3 linked regions of the Homo sapiens genome follow. The protein of the gene in region 2 purifies or fractionates together with the protein of the main gene of each other region. This does not show direct contact. Each region holds a gene or a part of one and is shown on either strand. Other genes may lie near its edges.

What was found. Proteins that work in one complex are often made in the same cells at the same time.
Region 1: the proteins of SERPINB11 (region 2) and LMF1 purify together in Homo sapiens (affinity purification with mass spectrometry, with the first as the bait; one large-scale study listed by BioGRID). This does not show direct contact.
Region 3: the proteins of SERPINB11 (region 2) and WDTC1 purify together in Homo sapiens (affinity purification with mass spectrometry; one large-scale study listed by BioGRID and IntAct). This does not show direct contact.

What each region holds. Positions count from the first base shown.
Region 1 is NC_000016.10:960,896-964,823, forward strand, and holds part of LMF1 (lipase maturation factor 1), read right to left. Parts: intron 1-3,928. UniProt on the Homo sapiens protein: Involved in the maturation of specific proteins in the endoplasmic reticulum. Required for maturation and transport of active lipoprotein lipase (LPL) through the secretory pathway. Each LMF1 molecule chaperones 50 or more molecules of LPL.
Region 2 is NC_000018.10:63,712,857-63,716,784, forward strand, and holds part of SERPINB11 (serpin B11), read left to right. Parts: intron 1-3,178; coding exon 3,179-3,296; intron 3,297-3,928. UniProt on the Homo sapiens protein: Has no serine protease inhibitory activity, probably due to variants in the scaffold impairing conformational change.
Region 3 is NC_000001.11:27,293,293-27,297,220, forward strand, and holds part of WDTC1 (WD and tetratricopeptide repeats protein 1), read left to right. Parts: intron 1-729; coding exon 730-824; intron 825-1,221; coding exon 1,222-1,337; intron 1,338-3,033; coding exon 3,034-3,109; intron 3,110-3,755; coding exon 3,756-3,864; intron 3,865-3,928. UniProt on the Homo sapiens protein: May function as a substrate receptor for CUL4-DDB1 E3 ubiquitin-protein ligase complex.

The DNA.
Region 1 (3,928 bases), on a different chromosome or scaffold from region 2:
CTCACGGTGACAGCACGGGATCACGACCCAGACACAGACTCACGGTGACAGCACGGGATCACGACCCAGACACAGACTCACGGTGACAGCACGGGATCACGACCCAGACAGACTCACGGTGACAGCACGGGATCACGACCCAGACACAGACTCACGGTGACAGCACGGGATCACGACCCAGACACAGACTCACGGTGACAGCACGGGATCACGACCCAGACAGACTCACGGTGACAGCACGGGATCACGACCCAGACAGACTCACGGTGACAGCACGGGATCACGACCCAGACACAGACTCACGGTGACAGCACGGGATCACGACCCAGACACAGACTCACGGTGACAGCACGGGATCACGACCCAGACACAGACTCACGGTGACAGCACGGGATCACGACCCAGACAGACTCACGGTGACAGCACGGGATCACGACCCAGACACAGACTCACGGTGACAGCACGGGATCACGACCCAGACACAGACTCACGGTGACAGCACGGGATCACGACCCAGACACAGACTCACGGTGACAGCACGGGATCACGACCCAGACACAGACTCACGGTGACAGCACGGGATCACGACCCAGACACAGACTCACGGTGACAGCACGGGATCACGACCCAGACACAGACTCACGGTGACAGCACGGGATCACGACCCAGACAGACTCACGGTGACAGCACGGGATCACGACCCAGACACAGACTCACGGTGACAGCACGGGATCACGACCCAGACACAGACTCACGGTGACAGCACGGGATCACGACCCAGACACAGACTCACGGTGACAGCACGGGATCACGACCCAGACACAGACTCACGGTGACAGCACGGGATCACGACCCAGACACAGACTCACGGTGACAGCACGGGATCACGACCCAGACACAGACTCACGGTGACAGCACGGGATCACGACCCAGACAGACTCACGGTGACAGCACGGGATCACGACCCAGACACAGACTCACGGTGACAGCACGGGATCACGACCCAGACACAGACTCACGGTGACAGCACGGGATCACGACCCAGACACAGACTCACGGTGACAGCACGGGATCACGACCCAGACACAGACTCACGGTGACAGCACGGGATCACCACCCAGACAGACTCACGGTGACAGCACGGGATCACGACCCAGACACAGACTCACGGTGACAGCACGGGATCACGACCCAGACACAGACTCACGGTGACAGCACGGGATCACGACCCAGACACAGACTCACGGTGACAGCACGGGATCACGACCCAGACACAGACTCACGGTGACAGCACGGGATCACGACCCAGACACAGACTCACGGTGACAGCATGGGATCACGACCCAGACACAGACTCACGGTGACAGCACGGGATCACGACCCAGAGGGAAAATAAATGGGCGTGGGTCCATAGTGACAAAATCAGTGACCACAAACAAGTAAGTAACAAGATCTTCCTCACAGAGGAATTCCACATAATGTCCGCAGACACTCCCTTCAGGAGGCGGGGGCTGGACCCAGTGAGCGGCTTCCAGAGGACAGAGCGGGCGGGAAAGCAGGGACCTGTCAGAGGGCACACCTGGCAGGCAGACCTTGGCCGGGTGATCAGAAAGCCGTGCGGACGTCAGGACCCTGATACGGTGTGACGGGAAGGGCCCCGCACCTCTGTGGGCGTCTTCCCAAAACCCATCACCCAGTCTAATTGCGAGGAAACACCAGACGGACCCAACGTGAGGGACGCTCTACAGACGCCATGACAGGCCTGCTTGACACTGTCAAGGTCGGAATCCTGCACAGGAAAGTCTGGGAGACTCACAGACCAGGGAGGGAGGGAGGAGACGCCAGGACAAAACCGGGTCCCAGAACGGAACAGGCACGGGTGGAAAAGCCATAGAGTCTGCAGTTTCAGTTAATAGTTTTATTTTTAATAAAAAAATTTTAAAAAGTAAAGGTTTCTCGAAGACTCTGCACCACTCAGTGCCCGGCATGAAGCGCTGTGAGCAGCCTCCCTCCAAGGCAGTGGGAGCAGGGCCACAGGCAGAGCACCGCAGGGCCCTGGGCGACGAAAGGGTCAGGGCTGGTGACCTCTAAAGGGGCTGCGACGGCAGGTGGGTGGGGGCAGCTCCAAGTGAGGAGGAAGAGGGTGGACACAGGCGGGCACGGGATGGACACAGGGTAAACAAAGGGCAGACACAGGGCGGGACACAGACTGGACACAAGGCTGGACACAGGGTGGACATGAGGTGGGACACAGAGGGGACTCGGGGTGGGTCGCAGGGCGGGAAACAGGGCTGCAGCAGAAGGCTCCCCACACCCCTACTGCCTCCACCACTGGGTGGAAGGGACCTGAGCTGTGAGCGCTGACCTCCTAGCAACATAGAGGACACCTCGCGGTAGGCCCTCAGCCCCGGCGGCCACACGTGCAGGGACCGCACCAGCAGCTTCCACAGCTCAGGCCAGTGTGTGTGCATATGGGTATGACATGCCCATGTGTCCCTGTGTGTATGTGTCTGTACACATGTGCACATGTATACATGTGCACCTGTGCATGGATGCCCTGTGTCCATGTGTGCACGGGTGTATGCATGTCTCTGTACACGTGTGCACATGTACACATGTATGTGTGCGTGTGCAGGGATGCATGTGTGTATGTCCTGGCATGTATGCAGGTGGGAGAAACACAGGTTGTGACTGTTCAGCCACTGCACACTCCAGGGCCCAGCCTTCATTGGTGCTAGGCTGGGGCCCCTTTCCCACAGGGACCTAATTGGCGCTAGCTGAAGGGTGGATGTGCTCCACCCCTCACCACAACGCAAACTCCAGGACCACAGAGGAAAACAAGATGTGGCCTCACCAAAGCAATAGCCTAAATCAGTAATTCTAAGGCAAGAAGCATAGGATGCTTCCTGCTTATCAGGAAAAAGGAAGACAGACTGAATTGAGATTTCAGAGAGAAAAAAACTATTTCAACCTCTACTCATGTTATAAAAATAGCTACATAAAAAGATGCAGTAAAAATCTTGAAACATCACAGGCTCTCAAAACAAAACTAACCAAGCAGTCAAGCTTCGGAAGGCCCCGTCACTACCCCACACGGGAGGCAGCAGAGCCATGGCGGCCACCCGCCTCTCACAGGGACCCAGAGCCTGACCTGGGAGCTGCAACGAGGAAATACCGAGGAAATACCGTGTCGCCCGAGCAGCCAACAGCAGGCATGGCCGATAAATACTTTGTTTCAGAATCAGAAAGAAATAGCTGGGCGTGGCAGCCTGTGCCCGTAGCCCCAGCTACTCGGGAGGCTGAGGCAGGAGAATCTCTTGAAATCGGAAGGCGGAGGTTGTAGTGAGAGGAGATTGCACCACTGCACTGCAGCCTGGGCGAAAAAGTGAAACTCTGTCTCAAAAAAAAAAAAAAAAAAAGAATCAGAAAAAAAAAATCAGCTTTCTCTTTTCTCCTTTCAGATAAATTGTTGTAAGATTAAAACAGTCATCCCAGAAATGCCGTTCTCTGTTGATGGTTCTTACTGGCCGTGGTTAAATTCTGGGCCTCAGCACAGTGACCTCAAGTATTTTTTCTTTAAGGGATGTGCTGCAGAGCTCCGAAGTAGGGCAGTGCTGTTTGCTTTTTAAACAAGCAAGTATTTTATAGAAGAACTTGTAAAACCAAGTGGTGCATTTCATTAGAACTCAAGTGGCCCGGAGAAAAGAAAAAGAACTCATTTCCCATGAGCTCTTAGAGCCACTGAAAGCTCAGAACAAAACCAACTGAGCAGGGTTTCAAGTATTCTTTTTGGTTTCATTTTCTCCTCAAATTTTCTGAAGAACAGCTGAGAGTTTAGCAAATACGGGTGCAAACGATTCTGCCTGCCACGTCAACCCTGCCTCGGGTGTCATCTGACGAGGATGCCAAGCTACAAGGGCTGCGGTGA
Region 2 (3,928 bases):
GTAAAGTTCCCAAATATCACATAAAAATGACTTCTTCAAGATCCCTAATGCTGTCTAAGAACCAAGGTCAGGGATGAAGCACAAAACAAAGTAGGTAAGAATCATCCCTGTGGACCAGAAGAAAAACAAAATCAATTTTTCATATCTTTTTCAGAGGTTCTTAATAGTGGAGTATCAAGAAGTAGTTGAAATTACATTGGACTGTGAGCCAAGAGACAGGAGTTCTGTTTCCATTTAGAATATATAACTTTGGGCAAGTCACTTCTGTCTTTAAAATGAGAGGATTAGGCTTAGTTCTTTGTAGCTCCAATATTCTAACACCATTTATGCCCTTTCCCAACACCATGGTCCTATGTAGTTTTATTGAGTATTTACTCTGTGCCAGTCATTCTGCTTAGCTCATTACAAGCATTATCTCCTATAATCCTCACACTGTGCTAAGATATTGGTATAAAATTTCCATTAATTCTACAGACTGTGAAGCAGATTCTGAAAAGTCAGGCTGATAAGGGTCACAGACATATTTAAATGGCAAAACCTGGATTTAACCCCTATGCAAATCTGTCTTCCTGGTTTTAATTGCTACATCATCTTGTGATTGAGGTGAAATGCAAGCTTTTGTTTGACCAGGGTTATTTAAATGCTATCTGGGTGAAGCTGGATGAAAACATGAGTTTCTAATGTTCTTCCCTGGCCTGGTAGATCAGGTTATGTCTTGGATAACCTATGTGATGAGCTTCTGATAGTCAGAATATTTGCAACTTGGGGTAGGTATTATAGACATTCAGAGAGTATTTTCTTTTACTGCCCTGGAAGCATATAGGGAACGATGTATGGAGAGTGTCTAGAGTGGCAGGGATTAACAATCACGGTCCTTTGAGCTGGTATGCCCGCTCTCTTGACTTTGCCTTCTCAAAACAGTGACCCAGATATAACAGTAGACAAATGTGGATTTGGGATGATCATGATGACATCTGTTCCAGAAGTGAGAAGGTCCTCATTAGCATCATGAAGATTGTCTTGAACTATGTCATGAGAGGGACCTTGTTATTTCAGGATTCTGGCTGGGAAAAAGTCCATCTCCTGGGCTATGGAGAGTTACTTAAGGTTGTTTCAACCACAATTGGATCCAGCTCAGGACAAGATTCATTCTGAGGCCCAGATTTTGCTCATAGTATATTGGGGGAACCCGCCCTGATAATTCAATGTAGGTTCTTTTCTGTTTTCCCTATGTGTCGGCTGGTCTGAGAAATAAAGGGAAAGAGTACAACAGAGAGAAATTTTAAAGCTGGGTGCCCGGGAGAGACATCACATGTCGGCAGGTTCCATGAAGCCCCCCAAGCCGCAAAACCAGCAATTTTTTATTAGTGATTTTCAAAGGGGAGGGAGTGTACGAATAGGGTGTGGGTCACAGAGATCACATGCTTCACAAGGCAATAAAATATCACAAGGCAAATGGGGGCAGAGCATCGGGGCAAAATTAAAATTGCTAATGAAGTTTCGGGCATGCATTGTCATTGATAATATCTTATCAGGAGGCAGGGTTTGAGAGCAGACAACCGGTCTGACTAAAATTTACTAGTCAGGAATTTCCTCGTCCTGATAGGCCTGGGAGTGCTACGGGAGACCGGGGCTTATTTCATCCCTTATCTACAACTGTATAAGACAGGCATTCCCAGAGCAGCCATTTCAGAGACCTCCCCCTAGGAACGCATTCTCTTTCTCAGGGCTGTTCCTTGCTGAGAAAAAGAATTCAACGATATTTCTCCTATTTGTTTTTGAAAAGAGAAATATGGCTCTGTTCTGCCTGGCTCTCAGGCAGCCAGATCTAATGGTTATCTCCCTAGTTCCCTGAACATCGCTGTTATCCTGTTCTTTTTTCAAGTTGCCCAGATTTCATATTGTTTAAACACACATGCTTTACGAACAATTTGTGCAGTTAACGCAATCATCACAGGGTCCTGAGGTGATATACATCCTCAGCTTACGAAGATGATGGGATTAAGAGATTAAAGAAGACAGGCATAGAAAATCACAAGAGTATTGATTAGGGAAGTGATAAATGTCCATGAAATCTTCACAATTTATGTTCAGAGATTGCAATAAAGACAGGTGTAAGAAATTATAAAAGTATTAATTTGAGGAACTAATAAATGCCCATGAATTCTTCACAATTTATGTTCTTCTGTCACGGCTTCAGCAGGTCAGTCCCTCCGTTCGGGGTCCCTGACTTCCCCCAACATTAGTTAAGCTTTGTTTTTCTTCTACGCTAGGCACATCTTCCATATTTCAAAGTCTTGTATTGTTCTATTCAGTTCATGTTGGGGCATTGAGTCCCACTGGGCTGTGGAGGTATGCTCCTTAGGTCTCAGGAATTGCATCATGGTAAACTCATTTGGGTCCATGTAGATATCACTGTTGTCTTGGCAGAAAGACAACGGAAAGTCTCCAGTTCTATAGAAATCTAGGGCCATGGGTGGTCATAAATTGTTGCTCCAGAATGCTACACAGGAGGGCCTCCGGAGTAAAAATTTTTGGTTAAAAGAAAGGGTAAGTTCTTTATACTGAGTTTGCACACCACTTTCACTTAGATAATATGTTATAGGTGAACGAAATAATAAATTCTTAAGATATTTTTGTTCACACTTTACATAAATTTGACAGAAATGCCAACTATCTACATCACAGAATGTTTTTATTATTAATTATATTTATGGCAGCTTGTGAGGAGATTGATATATATCATGGGAGCAACCTTCTGTTAGACCTCAGAAAAGCAAGTCACTTAACCACTCTGCTTCTCAGTTTTCCTGTCTATAATCTGAGAGCAGTAACTTCCATGTCTACTTTGAAGAGGAAAGAGTAGGAATAGAGTCAGAAGGTGCTCATGTATTGCAATTTGTCATTTTGCTTTGAACACTTTAAAACTAAGAAAGCCAATCATATGACAGAAGTAACAACAAAACATTTCTGAACATTCCTTTTGGAAGGGTTTCAGATTTTGTTAAATTTATTTGTTTTATTAAAAATAAGTACATATGGATCCTGTTTCCTCTCAGACTTGTTTATGGGAACTGCTTTTTTCTCTGCATTAGAATTTTAGAATACATTGAGCTGTAGATTTTTGTTTTCCTTACACTGCTTTTGAATTGTTGTTCAATTATCATGTCTTTCATAGCAATATTTAAGCTGTTCTGAGAAATGGTATCAAGCCAGGTTGCAAACTGTGGATTTTGAACAGTCTACAGAAGAAACGAGGAAAACGATTAATGCTTGGGTTGAAAATAAAACTAATGGTAAGGATAAGTCAATATGTGTCTCTAAACTCTGTGTTGTGTTGATAAGCAACCTGAGTCCACTTGCTAAAGAGGAAGCTGGCTGAAGTCTGCACCTGACATAGGCAGATCAGCAAGAAAGGAATGGGGCCATATTTTGGAATACCCCTTACAATCAGTTGTTCTAGAAGCTATACAAAGTGACTCTGCGAATGAACACCATTTCTGTTTCATAAATGTGTGGCACATTCTGCAATTAAAATTAATTAAATTTAAATTTACTTTTCACAATTAAAAACCCATATATATTGCTAAACATTTCTTAAATGTTTCTTAGAAACATTTGGTTAAGGAAAAATTTAAGGATATACAAAGGTAAAGAGAATATATAATGAACCCTATTTATCCATCACTCAATTGCAACATTTCTCACTAATGGCTGGCTTTATTCATGTAATCTCTCACCCTTTCTCCAACACTTCTTTAAGATTATATTGCAGCAAATTCTAGATATTCTATCATTTTCCTTCACATATTTCACTTTGTTTTTCTAAAAATATGGACAATTTTAATACAACCGCTACAATTCATTACTTCTGAAAAATTAAAAATAATCCTTTAATGTTAAATATTCAGTGTGTTTTCATTTTTCC
Region 3 (3,928 bases), on a different chromosome or scaffold from region 2:
GTGGTGGCGGGTGCCTGTAGTCCCAGCTACTGGGGAGGCTGAGGCAGGAGAATGGCGTCAACCTGGGAGGCGGAGCTTGCAGTGAGCAGAGATCCTGCCACTGCACTCCAGCCTGGGTGGCAGAGTGAGACTCAGTCTCAATTAAAAAAAAAAAAAAAAAAGTATAAATTACCCATAATCTCTTACATAAATTCCTTATGATTTCCTTATATTTATTTATTCTTATAATTTCTTATATAAATCTCTTATAGTGTCTTTCTTAAAGAAATCACTGTATATAATATTTCCTGCTAGTTCTTATAACACTCAGAACCCCCACAGCACTCTCAGACCTGAGTTGCCTCTCCAGCCTGGGCTTTCCATGATTCTTGGGATGGATGCAGGAATGTCGCCTGTTTATTTTCATTCATGGGCTTGGTGACCACTGCTGCCCCTCACACACTGCATGGCTTGGAGCGGGTCTTGAACCTTAGCTTGCTTGTTTGTAAAATGGGAAAAATAAGATGGTCATGAAGACCCAGACAGCTTATAGGACCTACCTGGTAAAGCACTGTAATGTATATGTCTGTAATTGTCTAGTTGGTGGGCCTTTGGGGTTGCTTAGGTAAGGAGGAAAAATACCTCCTGTATGTCTCAGATACAAATGTAAGTTTTCGTCTAGTGAGTGTGGTCTGGTCTAGCCAGGGGCAGTGCTGTAACTTTAACCTATATGATTTTCCTTCCCACCAGAAAGAGCATGAAGCAGAGCCCTTCAGCGGGTGTGCACACCTTCTGTGACCGGCAGAAACCCCTTCCGGACGGTGCAGCCCAGTATTACGTAGCAGGTAGCGCTCAGCACAGCTCTGGCCCCAAACTCTCGGCTAGATGCTGACTCTTTTGGGGGCAGTCCAGGGAGACAGCATGGCATGGTGGTCAAGAGCAAGGGTTTTAGAGTCAGACAGACCTGAGTTTTAATCCCAACTCTGCCATTGACAAGCTATGTCACCTTCAGCAAATTACAGAAAAGAAACTCATCAAGGTTAAGTAAAATGGGGTTATAATGACTAAATGAGATAAAATATATAAAGCAACTAGCCCAGTGCATATAGTAAGGGCTCAACACTTGTAGCTGCTTTTATGCTAAAGTTGATTGGTATAATTTTTGATATGACTGACTTCACACAATCTCATGCCCCTTTGAAAGGGACTGGGACCCTAGTATGACTGGGCTATTCCCTGCAGGTCACCTGCCAGTGAAGCTTCCTGACTACAACAACCGTTTGAGAGTGCTGGTTGCCACCTATGTGACCTTCAGCCCCAATGGCACAGAGCTACTAGTCAACATGGGGGGGGAACAGGTATGTACAGCATAAGGTGGTTCTGCCCCATCACCATTCCATGCCCAGCAGCCAGGGGCATGTACCTTATGTTCACTGCTGAGGCAGACAAGACACAACAGCCTTATGGTAAATGATGTTACATTGAAATGTGGGGGTGATGTGGCATCATTGGAGTTCCCAGAGAGATGTCCTAGCTCAGTCTTTTTATTTCATTTTTTCTTAATGAACTAGATAGAAATATGATAGTATGGCATTTTGGTTAAGAATATAGGCTTTGGAATGGACAGACTTCTGTTCAAATGCTGGCCTGCTGTTCAGCAGCTGTTTACTGTGACTTTGAGCAAGTCTCTTTATTTTTCTGAGCCTCAGTTTCCTCGTCTGCTATTTTCCTAGGAGGAAATCCCTGGGGCTCAGAGCATGCAGCTCAGAGCAAGCTGTGGGTTAGTGCCAGCTTTGGGAAGTGTTCTTTGATAATGGCAGGTTGCTAAACCTTCTGTTTGTGTGCTCTCAGGATATTTAGTAAGCCTTGCATACATTTATTTACTCTACCAACACTGAGCACTTACTCTGGGACTCGCATTATTATAAATATAATAGAGACAAGTGGGAAATATGATCCATCCCCAGGCTGATGGGAGACATGACAAACGAAACAGTTAATGACATTACAAGGCAAGGCCCAAATATATACAAATGAAGCGGGATGCAGAATAGGTGAGGATAAGCCAGACATTCCTGGACCTGTCCAAGGAATCATGAAAAGCTCAGGAGTAGTGCTAGGGTAAACATTTGGCTTTGTGACCTTTGAGGACTTCTTCATCTTTTTAAACATGTGACGTGTTTTTTGTTTTTTTTTTTTGAGTTGGAGTTTCGCTCTTGTTGCCCAGGCTGGAGGGCAATGGTGCGATCTCGGCTCACTGCAACCTCCGCTCTGCCTCCTGGATTTAAGCAATTCTCCTGCCTCAGCCTTCCAAGTAGCTGGGATTACAGGCACATGCCACGCCTGGCTAATTTTGTATTTTTAGTAGAGATGGGGTTTCACGATGTTGGTCAGGCTAGTCTCGAACTCCTGACCTCAGGTGATCCGCCCACCTCACCCTCCCAAATGCTGGGATTACAGGCATTAACCACTGCACCTGACCTTCTATTTTGTTTGTTTGTTTGTTTGTTTTGAGGCAGGGTCTCATTCTGTCACCCAGGCTGGAGTGCAGTGGTACAATCTCAGGTCACTGCAGCCTCGACATCCCAGGCTCAAGTGATTCCCCCACCTCAGCCTCCTGAGTAGCTGGGACCACAGGCACACGCCACCACACCTGGCTAGTTTTTGTATTTCTTGTAAAGACGGGGTTTTGCCATGTTGCCCAAGCTGGTCTCAAACTCCTGGGCTCAAGCAACCACCCTCCTGCCTCAGCCTCCTAAAGTGCTAGGATTACAGGCTACGCCACCATGCCCAGCCAAATGTGATTCTAATTAATGATAGTATTTCAAGCAGGACTTTGGGTAGATCAGATAGCCCACCCTGAATGCTAGAGCTAGGAAGATTTTCCAGCCTGAGGTTTGCTGGAAGTACCTCTTAGGATAGCTTGATTGTTCTATGCTCAACACTCACTGTGTTCCAAGACTCTAGTTCTTGAGAAACCAAGACCTGCTTACTGGTTCAACCACATCCTTACCTCACAGCTTCCATCTCTTTTTTTGCCCCCCTCAACTCTAGGTCTATTTGTTTGACTTGACTTACAAGCAGCGGCCGTACACCTTCCTCTTGCCTAGAAAATGCCACTCCTCGGGGGGTAAGTTCTCCCTTAGGGTATCTCTACTGCGGCGGTGTAGGGGAGCTTAAGTGCATGCTACACCTGCTGAGAAGCCTGCCCTTTACTCTGGACCGTGATCCTCCAAAAATAGCAGATCTCTGAAATAACCCCACCTATGCAGTAAGAAAGAGGATGACAATAGAGCAGAGATCTCTTCAAGAGCTTTGCATCACTGCCCTTTTTGCTTCCCTCTGAAAAGACAGGTTCCTTCCATGGCTTGGCTCTTGAGAACCTGAAATAGTTCCCCTCTCCTTTGTATCCTGGCCCAGTCTTCTCATTGATTTCTTCCTGGGGCCTACAGTTGATTTAGGCACCTCCTCACTCCATTCCCACCCCCAGCCCCAGCCCTAGCCCCAGCCCCAACCCTAGCCCCAGCCCCAGCCCTAGCCCCAGCCCCAGCCCCAGCTGAGTAATGCCACGGTGAAGTTGTGTCCCTCGCCAGCCAGCAGAGGGCGCACGGGCTTTTCTTTATGTCAGAACTTGCTTTCTGGGAATGGATCTTACTCTGGGAGAACAGTCCCACGATGGAACCATCAGACCCCGTGATGGAAGCTAGAGGGCTGCCAGGAAGAAATGGGTCCTCTTCCTGAGTTGTTGCTGTCACTTTCTCACTATCTCCTGCCAGAAGTCCAGAATGGCAAGATGTCCACCAACGGTGTGTCCAACGGTGTGTCCAATGGCCTGCACCTTCATAGCAATGGCTTCCGGCTGCCGGAGAGTAGGGGACATGTCAGGTGAGGCCAGCTGGCTTGTCCAGCCCTCCAAGCCCCAGTTACACTATATGGACTGGAGGGAGGG